Linked DNA regions of Homo sapiens: regions 1 and 2 are each linked to region 3. Evidence: fine-mapped expression QTL. A gene starts in region 3. Each other region holds a variant in brackets. All regions are shown on one strand. Distances are between the middles of the regions.

Evidence for each region.
Region 1: its variant is fine-mapped to the expression of AFG2A in whole blood (INTERVAL, PIP above 0.99).
Region 2: its variant is fine-mapped to the expression of AFG2A in whole blood (TOPMed, PIP above 0.99).

The regions. Positions count from the first base shown.
Region 1 is chr4:122,976,775-122,982,198 of GRCh38, forward strand. AFG2A (AAA ATPase AFG2A) reads left to right here. Exons shown (of 16, transcript NM_145207.3): 10 at 2,458-2,612. Among named protein-coding and RNA genes, the nearest start is that of AFG2A, 56 kb to the left of the region's middle. The variant G/T (reference allele first, on the strand shown) is at 2,528.
Region 2 is chr4:122,851,634-122,857,057 of GRCh38, forward strand. All of the region lies in intron 1 of FGF2 (fibroblast growth factor 2), which reads left to right. Among named protein-coding and RNA genes, the nearest start is that of FGF2, 28 kb to the left of the region's middle. The variant T/G (reference allele first, on the strand shown) is at 2,806.
Region 3 is chr4:122,919,736-122,925,159 of GRCh38, forward strand. AFG2A (AAA ATPase AFG2A) reads left to right here and starts at 3,343. Exons shown (of 16, transcript NM_145207.3): 1 at 3,343-3,570. The coding sequence starts at 3,408. It overlaps NUDT6 (nudix hydrolase 6), which reads right to left and starts at 2,862. Exons shown (of 5, transcript NM_007083.5): 1 at 2,600-2,862. The coding sequence starts at 2,837. RefSeq lists enhancers at 3,006-3,542, 3,335-3,704.

The sequences.
Region 1 (5,424 bases), 57 kb after region 3:
ATTCTAGTTTGAATGTATTTACCAAAAGGGCAGGGGCAAAAGCATGTTTTAATTTTAATATTTTACTCTTTTAAAAGAAGTTCCCCAAACAAATTATTTTGATAAATCTTTTTGGCTTTTTTTATGGATGTTGTTTTGTAAATTCTATTTTATATTTGTAAATAATGCTTTCTCATATTAAGTATTTGTCATATTTTCATTGCCAAAACTAAGTGCTTGGATTTTTACATTTATTCTTCACATTCTTCCACCTCTCTTCCAACCTCTCATCCCCTCCCCTACAAGGACAAAATGTTTTAAATGCTGTAATCTTGCATGGGGTTTGGGTTTTTTAATATTTTTATTGGTGATAATTCTGTCACAGGATCCTTAGGGTGTCACTTTTCCAGCCAGAAACCTCTGTGGCCGGTGGCACCTCTGCCCGAGTTATATCCTCGGGCCCACTGGGCTTGTTCTGCCCACTTGGTCCAGCAGGCTGTACTTGGCTTGTGCTATTGACCTGGATCCTACACCTGCCAAGGGTGAGCCAGGCGCAGAGCAGTGAAGGGGGTGTGAGTGAGCCCGAGGTCCGGCCACTGCACACAGCCAGGCATGCTGGCTGCAGTGGAGTGGACAGCCCCAGGTGCAGGCACAGGCACCGGCTCTGTGTGAGGATGTGGCTGGACCAGGCATACCACAAGTGTTTTCCACCGTGGGCACCAGGTAACGTGGTGGTACCTGGAAGCTTGGAGATGTTGGAAACAGCAGAGCCCCAAAGAGAGTGTCACAGCTCTGGTATCACAGCTCTGATCACAGCCCTTGCATCTGGGCTCCCCAGAGGGCCACAGCTCCTCTTCTTCTCATTGCCCAAAATGTGGTGACCAGTGGGCGTGTTTCAGTCCTGTTTGTGTTACAGCTCTTTCAGTCCTGCCATTTGGAAGGTCCTGAGTTCTTGTGCAGCCTTTAGGAAGAATGAGGTATGTGGACAGCTGGAGGGTGAGCAAGGCAGAGAGGAGCTTCATTGAGCAAGAGAACAGCTCTCAGGAGACCTGAAGTGGGTAGGTCCTTCTGCCATCAGGTCGTCCTGATGAGCGTCCAGCTCTCAGCAGAGAGGATACCTGGAGGGGGTAGCTGCTGTCCACAGGCAGGCCATCCTCACAAATGTCTAGCTTTCCGCAGAGAGGACACCTGGAGTGGGTAGCTCCTTTCTGCAGGTAGGTCATCCTGATGAGTGTCCTGCTGTCAGTGGAGAGGAGACCCAGAGTGGGTAGCTTCTTTCTGTAGGCAGGTTGTCCCAGTGCATGTCCAGCTCTCAGTGGAGAGGAGACCAGAATGGGTAGCTCCTATCTGGCATCCCAGCTAGTGTCCAGTTCTCAGCGGAGAGGAGACCCAGAGTGAGTAGCTCCTGTCCTCAAGCTGGTCAGCCTGATGAGTGTCCAGCTCTCAGCAGAGAGGAGACCTGGAGTGGGTGGCTCCTTTCTGCAGGCAGGTTGCCCCAACGAGTGTCTACTTCTCAGCGGAGAGGAGACCCGGAGTGGGTAGCTCCTTTCCATAGGCAGGGTGTCCCAGTGAATGTCCTGCTCTTAGTGGTGAGGAGACCCAGGGTGGGTAGCTCCTTCTCACAGCTGGTAGTCCTGACATCCCAGTGAGTCTGGCTGAGTCGGGTTTTTATGGGCTTCAGAAGGGAGGAAGTGCATGCTGATTGGTCCATGGGTGGCCATGGGCAGGCCCAGAAAAAGCACCATAAGTTCTTGGTCTCAGCTGCAGACTCTACCCAGCTCTGACAGCCTGCCCTCCATGCTTCAGGCTGTCCCTGGCTTAAAGGTGGGGCTTCACCAGGGACTCACTCCTTTCTGCCCAGGAGCCTCTCTGCCTCCTGCTGCCATCAATCATGTCGTCCATGGTGCTGGGGCTGTTCATGCTGAGGGGCGCTTGCAGGACTGCGCCAAGCCACCCTCAGCCTCCCTCACATACTCATTGGCACCCAAAGTCTGGAGGGGACCAAGGTGGAAGGGAGCTGGACTGTCAGTGCCACCTTGAGCACATGAACACCTAGGTGGGTCATGACAGTGGCTTGGCTCAGCCTTAACTTTGGTCTGAAATCAGAGCAGGCAAAAAGTTTTTCTGGGACTGGGGAGAGGCCAGGCAGTAGAAGCAGGCACTTCGGAGCCTGTTGGGGCAGGGGGTGCTTCCTGGGTTCTCGAGAGTGGAGGGATACCTGGGTCCACAGCCATGGCTGGGCAGCTGCAGCTGTGCCTGGGTGAGTGGGGCTCACACCCCACCAACTTGGAAAAGAGCAGGGCTCCTGCCTGTTCCCAGCTCCCACTGGCTTCGTGGAGTATGCAGCCCTGGCCACGCCTCCCCCACTGCAGCCAGTGTCTTCACTGTTGCCACTCCAGATGGGCCACCGGAGCCATCAATTCAGTCTGTATTTATGAAGGAAAAGACAAATCTTGTGTTACTTTCCTCTCTTTATAGGTCTCTGTGCCTTGCGGAGAATCCTGAAAAAACAGCCTAACCTCCCTGATGTCAAGGTGGCTGGACTGGT[G/T]AAGATTACTCTGAAGGATTTCTTGCAGGCAATGAATGATATCAGACCCAGTGCCATGAGGGAAATAGCAATTGATGTCCCAAATGTAAGTCATTTATGTCCCACACTAGCTACACTGTTTGAATTAAACTCTGAAAAAAATTTAGAGTTCAGGGAGACTGACTTCCTAGGCTAAACTTTAAAAAAATATTTTTCTTAATTGAAAGTTTTATTGAGATAGCTGTAAATTCAGTGCAGTTATACGAAGTAATGTAGGGAGATTCTGTGTATCCTATACCCAGTTTCCTCCAGTGGCAACATTTTGCAAAACTGAAGTACAGGCTGGGTGCAGTGGCTCATGGCTGCAATCCCAGCACTTTGGGAGGCTGAGGTGGGCGGATCACTTGAGCCCAGGAGTTTGAGACCAGCCTGGTTAACATGGTAAAACCCCATCTCTACAAAAAGTACAAATTAGTTGAGTGTGGTGGTGTACACCTGTAGTCCCAGCTACAGCTGAGGTGGGAGGATCATCTGAGCCCTGGGGAATGTTGAGGCTGCAGTGAGCCATGGTTATGCCACTGCACTTCAGCCTGGGTGACAGAGCGAGACCCTGTCTCAAAAACAAAAAACAAAACACCCAAAAAACTATATTACAATACTAAAACCAGGATACCCCTATTGATACAATCCATTGATCTTACTCATATTTTTTCAGTTTTACTTGTGTGTATGTGTTTATTTAGTTTTATACAATTTTATCTCATGAAAAGGTTTGCATATTCATCACAGATACTAAGTAATTCCATCACCACAAAGATCCCTCATGTTGTCTTTTATAATCACACCCACCTCATTCCTCCCCTCATTTCTAAATTTTTATTTCAGAACCTTTATATAAATGGAATCATACTGTATACAACCTTTTGGAATTAGCTTTTTTCACATATGAGTAAGATCTTTTGTCTTTCTGTGTACCTTAACTTATTTCAGTAGGCATAATGTTCCCCAGATTCATCCATGTTATTATAAATGACAGTATTTTCTTCTTTTTATAAGGCCAAATAATATTCCATTATGCCACATTTCTTTGTACCATTATACCACATTTTCTTTCTCTGTTCATCTGTTGAGGGACACTTAGATTGATTCCCTATCTTGGATGTTGTGAATAGTGCTGTAGTGAACATGAGAGTGCAGATATCGCTTTGAGATACTTCATTTCCTTTTGATATGTACCCAGTAGTAGGATTGCTGAATCTTTTGGTAACTTAATATTTTGAGGAACCACCATACCATTTTTCCATAATGTCTGTACCACTTTACATTCCCACCAACAGTGTACAAGGGTTTCTTTTTCTCCATATCCTTGGCAACACTTATCTTTCATCTTTTTGGTAATGGCCTTCCTAACAGATGTGAGGTGATATCTCATTATAGTTTTGATTTGTATTACCCTGATGATTAGTGGTATTGAACATATTTTCATATACCAGTTAGCCATTTGTACGTCTTCTTTTAACAAATGTTACTCAGATCCTTTGCCCATTTTTAATCAGATTGTTTGTTTTTTTTTGCTTTTGAGTTGTTTGAGTTTCTTAATATATATTTTAGTATTTTGGATAGCAGCCCCTTACCTCATATATGGTTCACACATATTTTCTCCCATTCCATAGGTTGTCTCTTTACTCTGTTTCCTTTGCTGTGCAGAACTTTCTGGTTTGATGCAGTCCTGTTTGTCAGTTTTTGTTTTTCTTGCCTCTGCTTTTGGAGTGTATCCAAAAATTCATTGCCCTGGACCCATGCCATAAGGCTTTTCCTTATGTTTTCTTCTAGTAGTTTTACAGTTCTAGATATTATGTTTAAATATTTAATCCATTTTGAACTGATTTTTTGTATGTGGTGTGAGAAGACTGGCCAGTTTCATGTGTGGACATACAGTTTATCATATGGATATCATGTGGATATACAGTTTTCCTGACACCATTTTTTAAAGAGATTGTGCTTTCGTCATTGCGTGTTCTTCGGTACCTTTGCAGATCAATTGACTGTACATGCGTGGATTTATTTCTGGGCTCTCTATTGTTTCATTTATTTATATGTCTGTTTTTATGCCAGTATATTGCTGTCTTGATTATCATAGCTTTGTAGTATATTTTGAAATCAGATAGTGTGATGCCTACAGCTTTTTTTTTTTTTTTTGCTTGAGATTACTTTGACTATATGGTGACTTTTATGTTTCCTTATGAATTTTAGGGTTGCTTTTCATATTTTAGAGAAAAATGCCATTGGAATTTTGGTAGTGGTTACATTAAATCTGTAGACAATTTTGGGTAGTATGAATATTTTAATAGTGTTAATTTTTAAAATTCATGAACATTAGACATTATTCTATGTATTTGTGTCTTCTATTTCATCAGTATTTTATAGTTTTCAGTGTACAGGTCTTTCACCGTCTTGGTTAAGTTTTTTCGGTATATTTAAAAAATACTATTGTAAATGGGATTTTCTTTTTTTAATTTTTTGGATAGTTGTTAGAGTATAGAAATGCTACTGACTTTTGTTGTCGATTTTGTATCCTGCCAATTTACTGAATTCATTTATTGGTTTTAATCTTTTTTTTTTGGTGGAATATTTAGGGTTTCCTTTATATAAGATTATGTCATCTGCAAACAGACAATTTTTTTCTTCTTTTTCAATTCGGATGCTTTTTATTTCTTTTTCTTGCCTAATTTCCCTGGCTATGACTTTCAGTACTATATTAAATAGAAGTTGCGAGAGTGAGCATTTTGTCTTGCTCTTCATCTTAGAGGAAAAGTTTTTAGCTTTTCATTGTTGGGTATGATGTTAGCCGTGAGCTTGTCATACATATAGCGTTATGATGTTGAGATACATTCTGTCTAATGTATTGAGAGTTTTTA
Region 2 (5,424 bases), 68 kb before region 3:
AGGGGCTAGAATTGATTTCTTAGCTAGAATGTGTTGAACAGCTATTATTAAAAGTAGAGAAAATGCAAAAGTGCAATCATGTGGCTTTTCTTCCTGGCCCTAACCCTAGCCTCAGCCCTTTCTTTCTTTCTTCTCATTTCTCTGGTGAGCTCATTCTCACAGTTTCATCTTTCACATATGTGCAGGTAACAGGTAGACTTGGGTTTATGTCTCAGCTGTGCCTTACTAATTCTATGCTCTTGGGTAAGTTAATTTATTTAAATATTAGTTTCCTCATCTATTATATAGGGATACTAGCTGATAATAGCTACTATGTTGGTATTGTTGTGATGATTAACATGATAATATAGGCAGTGTGTTTAGGATAGTACTGTCAAATAATAAGTAACCATTTTACTGTTATTTATTATTCCTAAATCTCTCAAAGCTTATATCTTATCTGTCCTCCACTGCTTCAGTTGTCTATTGCTGTGTAACAAACATCTCAAAGCTGTGTGGTCTAAAATAGTGATTTTATATTTTATGATTCTGTGGGTTGGCCTGGGTGCAACTGCATAGTTCCCCTGGTATAATTTAGAATGTGTCATGCAGCTGCAGTCAAGTGGTCACGGGGACAAGAATATCTGAAATGGCTTTACTTACATGTCCAATACCTTAGCAGGGATAACTGGAATCCTAATGATATCTTTCTCCAGGTGCTGTCTCTCTCAGGTTAGCTTGGGCTTTTTCAGTGGCTGGATCTCAAGAGGAAAGGGTTCCAAGAGAGCAAGCTCCATTGTGTAAGCCGCTGTTTGCATCCTGTTTGCTAATATCAAAATTGCCAATGTCACATCAGTCAACATGTCTAGGACTAGATTCAGTTTGGGAAGAGCTACAGAAGATATAAATATCAGGTGGTGTGGTACATTGGAGCCACCAAAATAAGTCTGCCATCAGATAAACAATTAATTCCTCGCTTTTATGAGCATGGAATTGGTGCTAGATCATAAACTGACTATCCTCATTTTACCAACTTTCCCTTAATTGTTTTCTGTGTCAGTTTTTCATATTTCCAAGTTGAAACCCCCTAAACACAACATTTTTTTCCACTGCTCATTTTTTACCAAAATTCAAACTTCATGAAACCCTGGCATTTCATCCTTTGCCTTCCATCCTCATGGCCACCATCAAAGTCCACATCTTTATTATCTTACATGTGAACAGCTGTAATAACCTTTCCAGTTATTAATTCTTTAAACACCACTTTTAGCCTGATGCATTTCTTTTCAAGAACCTACGGTATGTTTATAGTCCAGATTGCATTAAACCTAACCTTTCTGTTATAGGGCCCTTTTCTGAGGCCTTATTTATCTTGCTCTGCACCATTTATATAACTATTTTCTGGCTGAGCACAGTGGCTCATTCATGTAATCCCAGTACTTTAGGAGGCAGAAGCAGGTGGATTGCTTGAGCTCAGGTGTTGGAGACCAGCCTGGGCAACATGGCAAAATGCCATCTCTACCAAAAATACAAAAATTAGCCAGGTGTGGTGGTGGGTGCCTGTGGTCCCAGCTACTTGGGAGGCTGAGGCAGGAGGATTGCTGGAGCCAGGGAAGTTGAGGCTGCAGTGAGCCATGATCATGCTACTGCACTCCAGCCTGCATGACAGAGTGAGATCCTGTCTCAAAAATAAAATAAAGTGAAATAAAAATAAAAACTATTTTTTACTATTGTATGCCCTCCACCCTCCAGAATCAGAGTGTGATGAGGCAAGTTATTTAATAAGAGAGTTTTAAGTTCATGTATATTATAAATATCTTAACACACAGAGGGGAACAGAGGAGACAATGCTGAGGTAGAGTAAAAACCCTGAAGACAAGATGTAAGGAGGAAGGGATTTTGTTGTTGCTATTTGTACTTTTGAGAATTAGGAAGGAGGGAAAAGGGGAATCAGGAAATATTTCAGGGAGTTAGAAATTAGATCCCCTTCACGGAATTCCCCAATATTTAAACATCTTGAACTGTCTTTTGTTCACCACACTACTCCTGCTGCACTTGGGTTACGCATCCATACCCACGTGGTCTGTTTTTGTAGTTGTTACTGGAATGGTGCGAGGGTGTATATACTAATGCTGTGCTTGATACTCAATGAGTGCTTCATAAATGCTTGCTGGATGAAGAATATAAGCAAAACTTACCTAATTCCTTATCTTTTATAAACTAAAATGGACAATATTGATAGGAGTTAAATGAAAGAATGAACGTTCTTATATATTAAATGGAGAGAGATGCAGAATGCAGTTTTGTTAATTATCTTCACTATTAAAAATAGACATTTGTAAAGCATCAGTATATGTGCTGTATTTGCTGCGTCTAGAGAGGAGCTGGGATGGATGAAGGCTTAGCTGGTTATACTGCACAATGAGAGTACCTGTTTCTTCTGTAGATAGAGCATAGAAGATATACTAGGAACATGGGGAAAAGCCATTATATATTTTCTTTTTTAGATCTGCAAGCCTTTTGGATGTGAGAAGATTTTTTAAAAGGACATTAAAAAATAGCTTCTTTTTCACATAAGGATACAATATTTTAAAGTAGTAAACATAGAAAGGCATTCGCCTACAGAATTCTAATGAGCATATTCGTTATTCACTGATACTCTTTTGATGGCTGTGCATTTCCTTTCCAAAAACACAATATTTTTGTGAAACCAGTGGTAGTATTCGACCCTGGCAATCAAGATTGTGTAAGGAAATGGTAAACATTTTTTGGAGAAGAGTCTCCCGCACCTCACAGGCTTTTAACAACAATTTCAAATAGCATATT[T/G]TAAAGAACTCAGCTCTGGAGTCTGCCTAATTATTAACTTCTACTTAGAGGCAGCTGCATTCTTGAGGGTGGAGCCATGATCTTCTTTTACTGTGATCCTGTTTTATTCCTTTAAATACTCAGCACAGCTGAAGAAGAGGTCCTGTTTTCTTACTGAAGACTTTCAGGCAAAGGAGCCGTTTCCAACTTCCTACTAAGTCCACCCAGCATATGTCATGCAGGGGATGCGGGGAAGAATTTTCCTTGCAAGGGCCTTCTCAGAAGTTTTGGAGATGGGCCTTGAGCTCTTGGCTGGAAGCGTGGTTTTCCAAAGTGGAGGCTGCAGTAATGCTCGTCATTGATTGAGAGACGTGCTGCCGGGGCTATTTTCATGGGAGTCAAATAAAACTCTCTTGTCTTAAGCCTGCTTTGAAAGGTGTTTTCCTAATGATTTTACAGTCAAATAGAATGACTGTGTGGGAGAGTGTATTAAATAACTGGAACACTCTGGGCAGCTTCCCTTCCCCACCCTGTGCCCCTACTTGCCTTTCCCCCAAAGCTCCTCCTCCTCCGGGCACACACATGCCGCTCTGTTTTCTGTTCTGGAGCTGCCTGAATTGTGTGATTTTTGTGGATGAATGTGAACTCTTTAATCCAGAAAGAGGTGCCAGGAACACAAACAGCCCGGCTAATTGGCATTCACCCCTAGGGAAAGTAACATGGCCAACAAGCTGGTTGCATTATCTCCATGAGGCACTTACTTAATTAACTTTGAGGAGAAACCTCAAGCTCTCTCAAATCACCCAAGAAGCATTTCGAAAAGGAAGAATTTGCCAAGAAAAGGCTATATTCAGGAGGTGTTCCATCTCTTGAGTATGTTGGATTAGTTGCAGAAATACTTACTTAAGGCAGCTTATATTTTTGTTTAATCTCTTTCTGAGCTGCTTATGATTTCAGCGTACTGAGAGGAATTTTCAAGAATTGATTTATATTGAAGAACTCACATTTCAAAATATCAGCAGTTTTGTTGAAGTATTTCTCAGTTGTTTTTGTGAAAGTATTGCCAACCCTGACTGAAGGTCTGACTTCCAACAACTTGTTCCATATGAAGATACTGACTTCCTCAAAGGCCTGTCTGCTGCTGCCTCCTCAGACAACAGAGCAGGTTGTCTAAACCATGGCACTTCCACCTCCAGCTTTGGAAGGCCTCTGCTAGAAGACATTTTCTCATAAGTAGTGCAGATGGTGCCCTAGGAGCTGATGAGCTTCCTGTTTATTCAGTAAGCGTTGCAGGAAATACAAAGAAATGTCAGGTGACCAAATGTTCTGGGGTCACCAGAGAAGTTCTTAACATTCCCTTACTAATGGAAATGAGAAAAATCTGTAGATTTTCAGCTATCTGAGGAACAATTTTTGTCTTTAAATAATCCTCTCCCCTCTTCTAATTACTAAAAGTGCAACCAACAGGTAGCAAAAGTGATATTTGAGCTTCATCCTTCTTTTCTTCTGTCCCCGTACCCTCACCTTCTAGTGAAATTACTCAGAGACTATGAAGAATAGGGATTGGAAGAAATTGAGAGCTCATGGTGGCAGGATAGCCCACAGACCATATGTGTCTCTGAATAAGGGAGAATTTGATAAGTAGAATAAGCCATCAGAAAAAAAAATTTTCAAATAGTGATTCCTCTTCAAAACATTTTACATATTTTCTCTAATATAATTATTAGAATAAAATCATTGAAATTTAGTATTAATTGAAACCTCTCATCAGATTTTTATATTGTGTTACATTGTGTTATATTGTGTTCAAGACACAATATTCATTTGGCTTTAAGAGACTGCACTAGAATGTAAAATCCACAAGAGCAGAGACAGTGTCTGGTTCCTTTCAGTGCTTTATCCCTTGTACCTGAATGGGACCTAGTTCAGGTACTCAGTCAACAATGAATTGTAAAATGAAAAAATCTAAATACAGTGGAGGCTATTTGGTCTGCGGGCTCTTCTGCCCTTGGGTTCTCAATTTCTTCCATTTTCTGTTCTAACATGGAAATGGAAGTTACACTAAAAGTAATATTTAAAGGAATCTTATTTATATTGCTTAGCTTCTTTCTCTCAAGTAATTTCTAGATCTTAAAGCACAGATTTAAAATATTAATTATTAAGCTAGAAGTAGAGACTTTGAACTAGTTGGCTGGTATTTTCTAAATTAAATTTTAAAATTTTGAGATAATTATAGATTCATTCACATGCAGTTGTAAAAAGATAATACAGGCAGATTCCTTGTACTCTTTACCCAATTTTCCCCCATTGTAACATCTTGTGAAACAGTAGTACAGTATCATAACCCAGATATTGACATTGATTCATTCAAGATACAGAGCATTTCCATCATCACGGTGATTCCTCAGGTTGCCCTTTTATAGGTGCACTCACTCCCTCAGCCCCACCTTGGGAAACTACCCATCTGTTCTCCATTTCTATAATTTTGTGGGCAACTTATTTTTAGAAACATTTCTCCAACAGCTGGCCCCTGAGAAGAAAAGACCATTTAACACATATAGGGTTGATGCGTTTTGTAGGTGGAAGCCAGGTATTTATAGATGCATGTCGTCAGTGTTGCCTGGTGTTGCTGTGCCAGGA
Region 3 (5,424 bases):
ATGAGCTCACCATTATGAATTTAAAGACTACTATGTCTGTACAATTTATTAGAACTTATTACATATGACCTAATGATATCTCTTCCATTAGCTATTTTTTCCAATTCTATTTAATATTCCATGCATTTGCAATCCTCCAGGGTAACCCTACATTATGCACTGGGGCTCAATTTGTACTAATGAAATGACTGGCTTGCCTAAAGTCACATAGCTGGTGAGTGGCATAGCAGGGACCAGAACCAGTGCTATTTCATTACTGATGCAGATATGTTATGTGTGAAGCTAACAACATATTGCCTGTTTATCCCTCTAACTTCAGTTGTTGGTAACAAAACATCAATAGTTCATGTTCTAAAAGAATATGAATAGTTGACTTCTTATTCCACCAAGAATATGGACTTCTTAGTCCATAAAGACTAAGAATAGCGGACTTCATGTGTAAATAGTCTCTCTTTATAGGCACTACCATTCAGTTAGTTTTGTTCAATTATAACAACAGAACCAGCAGGAGTTCTTCAAGGTAGCATAGTGCAGTAAGAAAGGTGTAGAGCCAGGGCAAGTAAATTTTTCTCTCTGTGCCTCACTACTGTCATCTTTAAAATAGGAATAATAATGCTATCTACCTCAAAGGGTTGTTAGGAGGATTAATTACTATTTATAAAGATCCTAAAACATCTACCATTAAGTGCAACAAAATTTGTTTTATTGAAAAAATATAACAAGTATTTGGTACTTAAGTTTACAAATTAGTTTCATCTTTGATCAACGCATCTATCCAGTAATTAGAGCTGGCGTTATTCACAAAAAGCAAGCTAAGAAGCAAATATTTTTGGTGGCAATTTGCCTAATGCCTGGCTAAGCACATGGCAGAACCTGGTACTTAAACCCAGAATGTGCACCTCCAAATCGCACAGCTTTCTGCTTTGTCATGCTGACTGGGGTAGTGCTTTGATCACCTGTTTGGTCATTGATAAGTATCAGTGGGTACAACACCTGTGTCTACCCACACACTGGAAGATAAAACGATTGATTCTCCTATTAGTGACACTGTTGCAGTATAAGCGGGCTTGTCAGCAATTACTAGCAAGTAGGAGAGAAAATAATGTGAAGAGGTAAGAAGTCTGGGAATGAGGATGAGTAAACATTGAAATAACTAGCTCAATTATATTTACAGATATGCTTCTTGCCATATTGCTCAATAGGATAAAGATTATTTTGAGTTTCCAGTGTGAGAGATTTTTCCATAGTTGAATTTGCATGCTATGCCTTCAATTAGATTATAAAACCCTCAGAGGCCGTTTGAAAAACTGCTGCACCACTAAATCGACTTCTTCCAAAGTGAAGGCTCCTCCATCCAAGCTTTCTTATCATTGGGCTCAAGGTTGAAAGCCAGTAAAAAGTTTTCTTATTGAAGACTGAAACCACCCACCACCGTCCCTGGTTAATCATAAAAGAAGCGTTATTCTAAAAAACTCCAGTTCTCGCTGAGACAGCTGTTGACCCAATTTGTATACAAATGTGACACTCTGAACCTCTCTGGTTTAGTATTTGATAGCCCAACAGGGTGACTATATTCAATAAAGATTCAGGCTGGGTGCAGTGGCTCCTGCCTGTAATCCCAGCACTTTGAGGGGCCAAGGCGGGAGAATCAGTTGAGCCCGGGAGACTGAGACCAGCCTGGGCAACACAGTGAGACACCGTTTCTAGAAAAAATAGAAAAAAGCCAGATGCGCGCCTGTAGTCCTAGCTACCCAGGAGGCTGAGGTGGGAGGATTGCTTGAGCTCAGGGGTTGGAGGCTGCAGTGAACCCTGATCCTACCACTGCACTCTAGCCTGGGAGACAGAATGATACCCTCTCTCAAAAAAAAAAAAAAAAAAAAAAACAAACTGTACATTTAAAAATAACTAAGAGTAACTGGATTATGGTTGAATGCTTGTGGTGATGAGTATCTCATTTACCCTGATGTAATTATTACACATTTATACCTCTATCAAAATAGCTCATATACCCCATAAACATACACACCTACTATGGACCCACAAAAATTAAAAATAAAAAAGAAAAGCCTCTTTGGTCCACTCAGTCCACCACCCGTATTAGAATGTAAGAGTTTTTTTCCTTGGGAAAAGTGTCCGACAGAACCAAGGCTCGGTAAAGGATACTAATAATGTAATAATATAATATTAACAAACATCTACTGAGCTTTAAATACGTGGCAGGCACTGTGCTGTGCACTTTATGTGCATTATCCAAATTAACTCTCAGTAATTCCAGGAGTTCTTATCACCGGGGTCTGTGGAAGAGGAAATGGTGGTTTACGGCAATTTCCGAATGTCGCACAGTAGAAAGTGGACCAGCAACCAGGGTTGCAGATCCCAAAGTCCGGGATCTTCACCATTTCACCCAACCGCCTTAGAGACCTCCCAGCAAAAGGTCTAAGCACGAATGCTCCAGAAAACAGGTCCAGGTCACGCGTGCCTTCTCCCTTTCCCTCTGGGCTCGACAGTGGTGCACAGAGCGACTAGGGAGTGGGGGCCGCGGTTATTTCATTAGAAAAGCTCTGGAGCCCCGGGAGCCCTTCGTCCCAGGCGCACTTGCCCTGCAAGCCCTTCTGGAAGGCGGCAGCGTCCAGGCGGTCCAGCGCATCGAGCCGCGCCAGGCGCACCGAGATGCCCCCGAATCTGTCCAGCTCGCCCTGCAGATCGCACGCTCCAACTGGCGGATTCCGCACGTAACCCTGTGCGCCCGAGGCCCAGCGGTAACCCGCCGAAGGCCCGGGGCCGTAGGTTCGGGCAAGCATCGCGCGCCAGCGGCCCCAGCTCAGTGGCTGCCGCATCTCCACGCCGCTTAATTCGTCCGTTGCCCAAATGACCCCTCCGCGCTCCAGAGCGGAGATCGCGGCCGTACATTTTAGAAGAGTGCCATCAATACCCTCAGAGTTGAGCTGGGGTTACCACTCTGCAGAGCTATGCCAAGGAGACCGCGAAGTGGTCCACCAGCCCTTCTCAGCAATTTGCCCCGCTCCAGTTAAGCGGGGAAAACCTCCTCCCCCACCGCCACTCACTTATTTTGTTTGGTAGTTTAATTCAACAGACGTTGGTTTAGGGATGGGGAAGCCGGGAGGAGATGCAAAAACGTCCTGTTTTTCAGGAATTTACAATCTAAGTGGCAGTTCCGTTCCTGGAACCTATCTTCTTTCACAGATGCCGTTACAGCTGTTTCAAAGACTGCTGGTTTTGAAAACGCTCAGTCCCTCCCACCACGCTGTGCACTGCTGCGCTCCACTCAGGGGATTACGGCGCAGGGGCGGACCCTCGCTGACTTCTGCCCCGGAAGTTTTTCTCTCAGTTGAAGCGCGCACATTGAGTCGGCTTTTCTACTGCTTCGGCTAGGGTACCTTGTGACCATGTCTTCCAAGAAGAATAGAAAGCGGTTGAACCAAAGCGCGGAAAATGGTTCGTCCTTGCCCTCTGCTGCTTCCTCTTGTGCGGAGGCACGGGCTCCTTCTGCTGGATCAGACTTCGCGGCAACCTCCGGGACTCTGACGGTGACCAACTTATTAGAAAAGGGTAAAGAATTCCGGGTGGGAGACTAGAGGCCGAGGGGGCGCAACCTGAGGGGCGGGAGACTCAGTGATACTGACTTGGGGTGCAGAGACTTTTGAAAGTTGGGCGTGGCATGGGTCTGAGAGCGGCACAGAAGCGTGTAAGACTTCTGTATGTAAGAAGCATGCAAACGTAGCCGCGCCTGCACTGGAGAAGTTAGGCTGAAATGGTTTATCCGTGTCCAAGGTTTCTCTTTTGTAAATTATTTTGAATTTTTAAGTTGCACTTGAAACGCTTTGTCTCATTTAACATTAACGACACATTTAATTGCAAAATTGTTCATAACTAGCGAACATGGGATACTTATCCTAAAAAACTAAATAACCAATTCAGTAAAAATGTGGATCACTCTGCCTTTAGGAGTGATGATAGCATTTTCTTCCAGTACTACGCAGGTTATGATATTTAATAACTGCTAGTAACTGCACACTAGTGTTAGCAGTATATATAGCTCATCTAATTTCTACAGAAGCCGTGACCGATGGGTATAGTAATGACAGTTTTATAGAGGGAGGAAAGTTAACGTGATTCCATTCAGGCTACACAGGTGCTAAGTGGCAGAGCCGATATTTGAGTCCAGATGTGTTTGACTTAAAAGCCATTCCTAGATGACAGCTCCTTTGATTTGGGAGAACGTATTTATACTGAAAAGTCTTATAAATTGAATTAAAAATTGAAAATTTATATTTGATGTGTAATAGCTTTGAAAAATGGACCAGACTAGTGGCAAAAACTTTTATGTCTAATCAGACCTTAAAGACAATTTAGAGTTCACATGGTATTTTCACTCTGCCTTAGGTATCAGAGGACAACTTGTTCTGTCCTGAAGGTTCAACTTGTTTTTGAACTAGATCCTTCCCATTGACATGTAAACATGCTCATTTCTCTTCCATCTTAAATCAGAACAAAAGCTCCACATTTTCTTCCTGCAACCGTCTCTCTATCCATTGCCAAGCTTCTTAAATGGAGTGGTCTCTGCCGCCTCACCACTTACATACTCTCCCTAGCCTATTCCTCTTTGACTTCCACCCCATCATTCCATGGAAACTGTTCCTGGTGTGGTCTCCGAGCATCTCCGTGTTGATAAACCTTACGTGACCACAGCAACTTTTGGTATTGTTGACCATTCCCTCCTTCTCGAAACACTTAACTTCTTATGTGTTGTCAAACTTGCCTGGTTTTCTTCATCTTTGTTGATGTTTCATCATTTTTCTTTGCAGGCTCGTCCTCTTCCCTTGACCATTAAATGTTGAAGTTCGTCAATTCTTAGTCCAAAACCTTTTTTTTCCTCTCAATAAATCCTGTCTCCTTGGCAAGTTCATCCAGTGCCCAGAGTTTCCCATCTATAGTCTCTTCAGTGTCAGATTTATATTTGTAAATCTTTTGTTTTTGCGCCTTGATGTGGTTGCCTTTTAGCCAAATGCTTCTCAAGCTCTCTGTGGTGAAGACTTTAAAATTTATAATAGGTCACAGATCAGCACTTTTCTAAAATACAGTAAAAATGATTTTCTAGAAAAATAAGGAAAAATTTTTATTAAACAGATGTGAAATTACTCTGTAAATTTCAATAAAAGCTTCTATATACTTATTCTCCTGTTTTGTACTTGTCATGAAGCAGTAACAAATCGTTGTGGGTCATATTTTGAATAGCACTGTACAATAACTCTTCTCATGAGTGTCCCAAAGATACTTCAGGACTAACTTCATGAGCCCGTTATTTCCTCCAACAAAATAAACTTCAACTCTGTTCAGTTTTTCCCGCTGCAAAATTCAGAAACCTAAGAGTCATCCATGACTCTCCCCCCCATATCTCACATA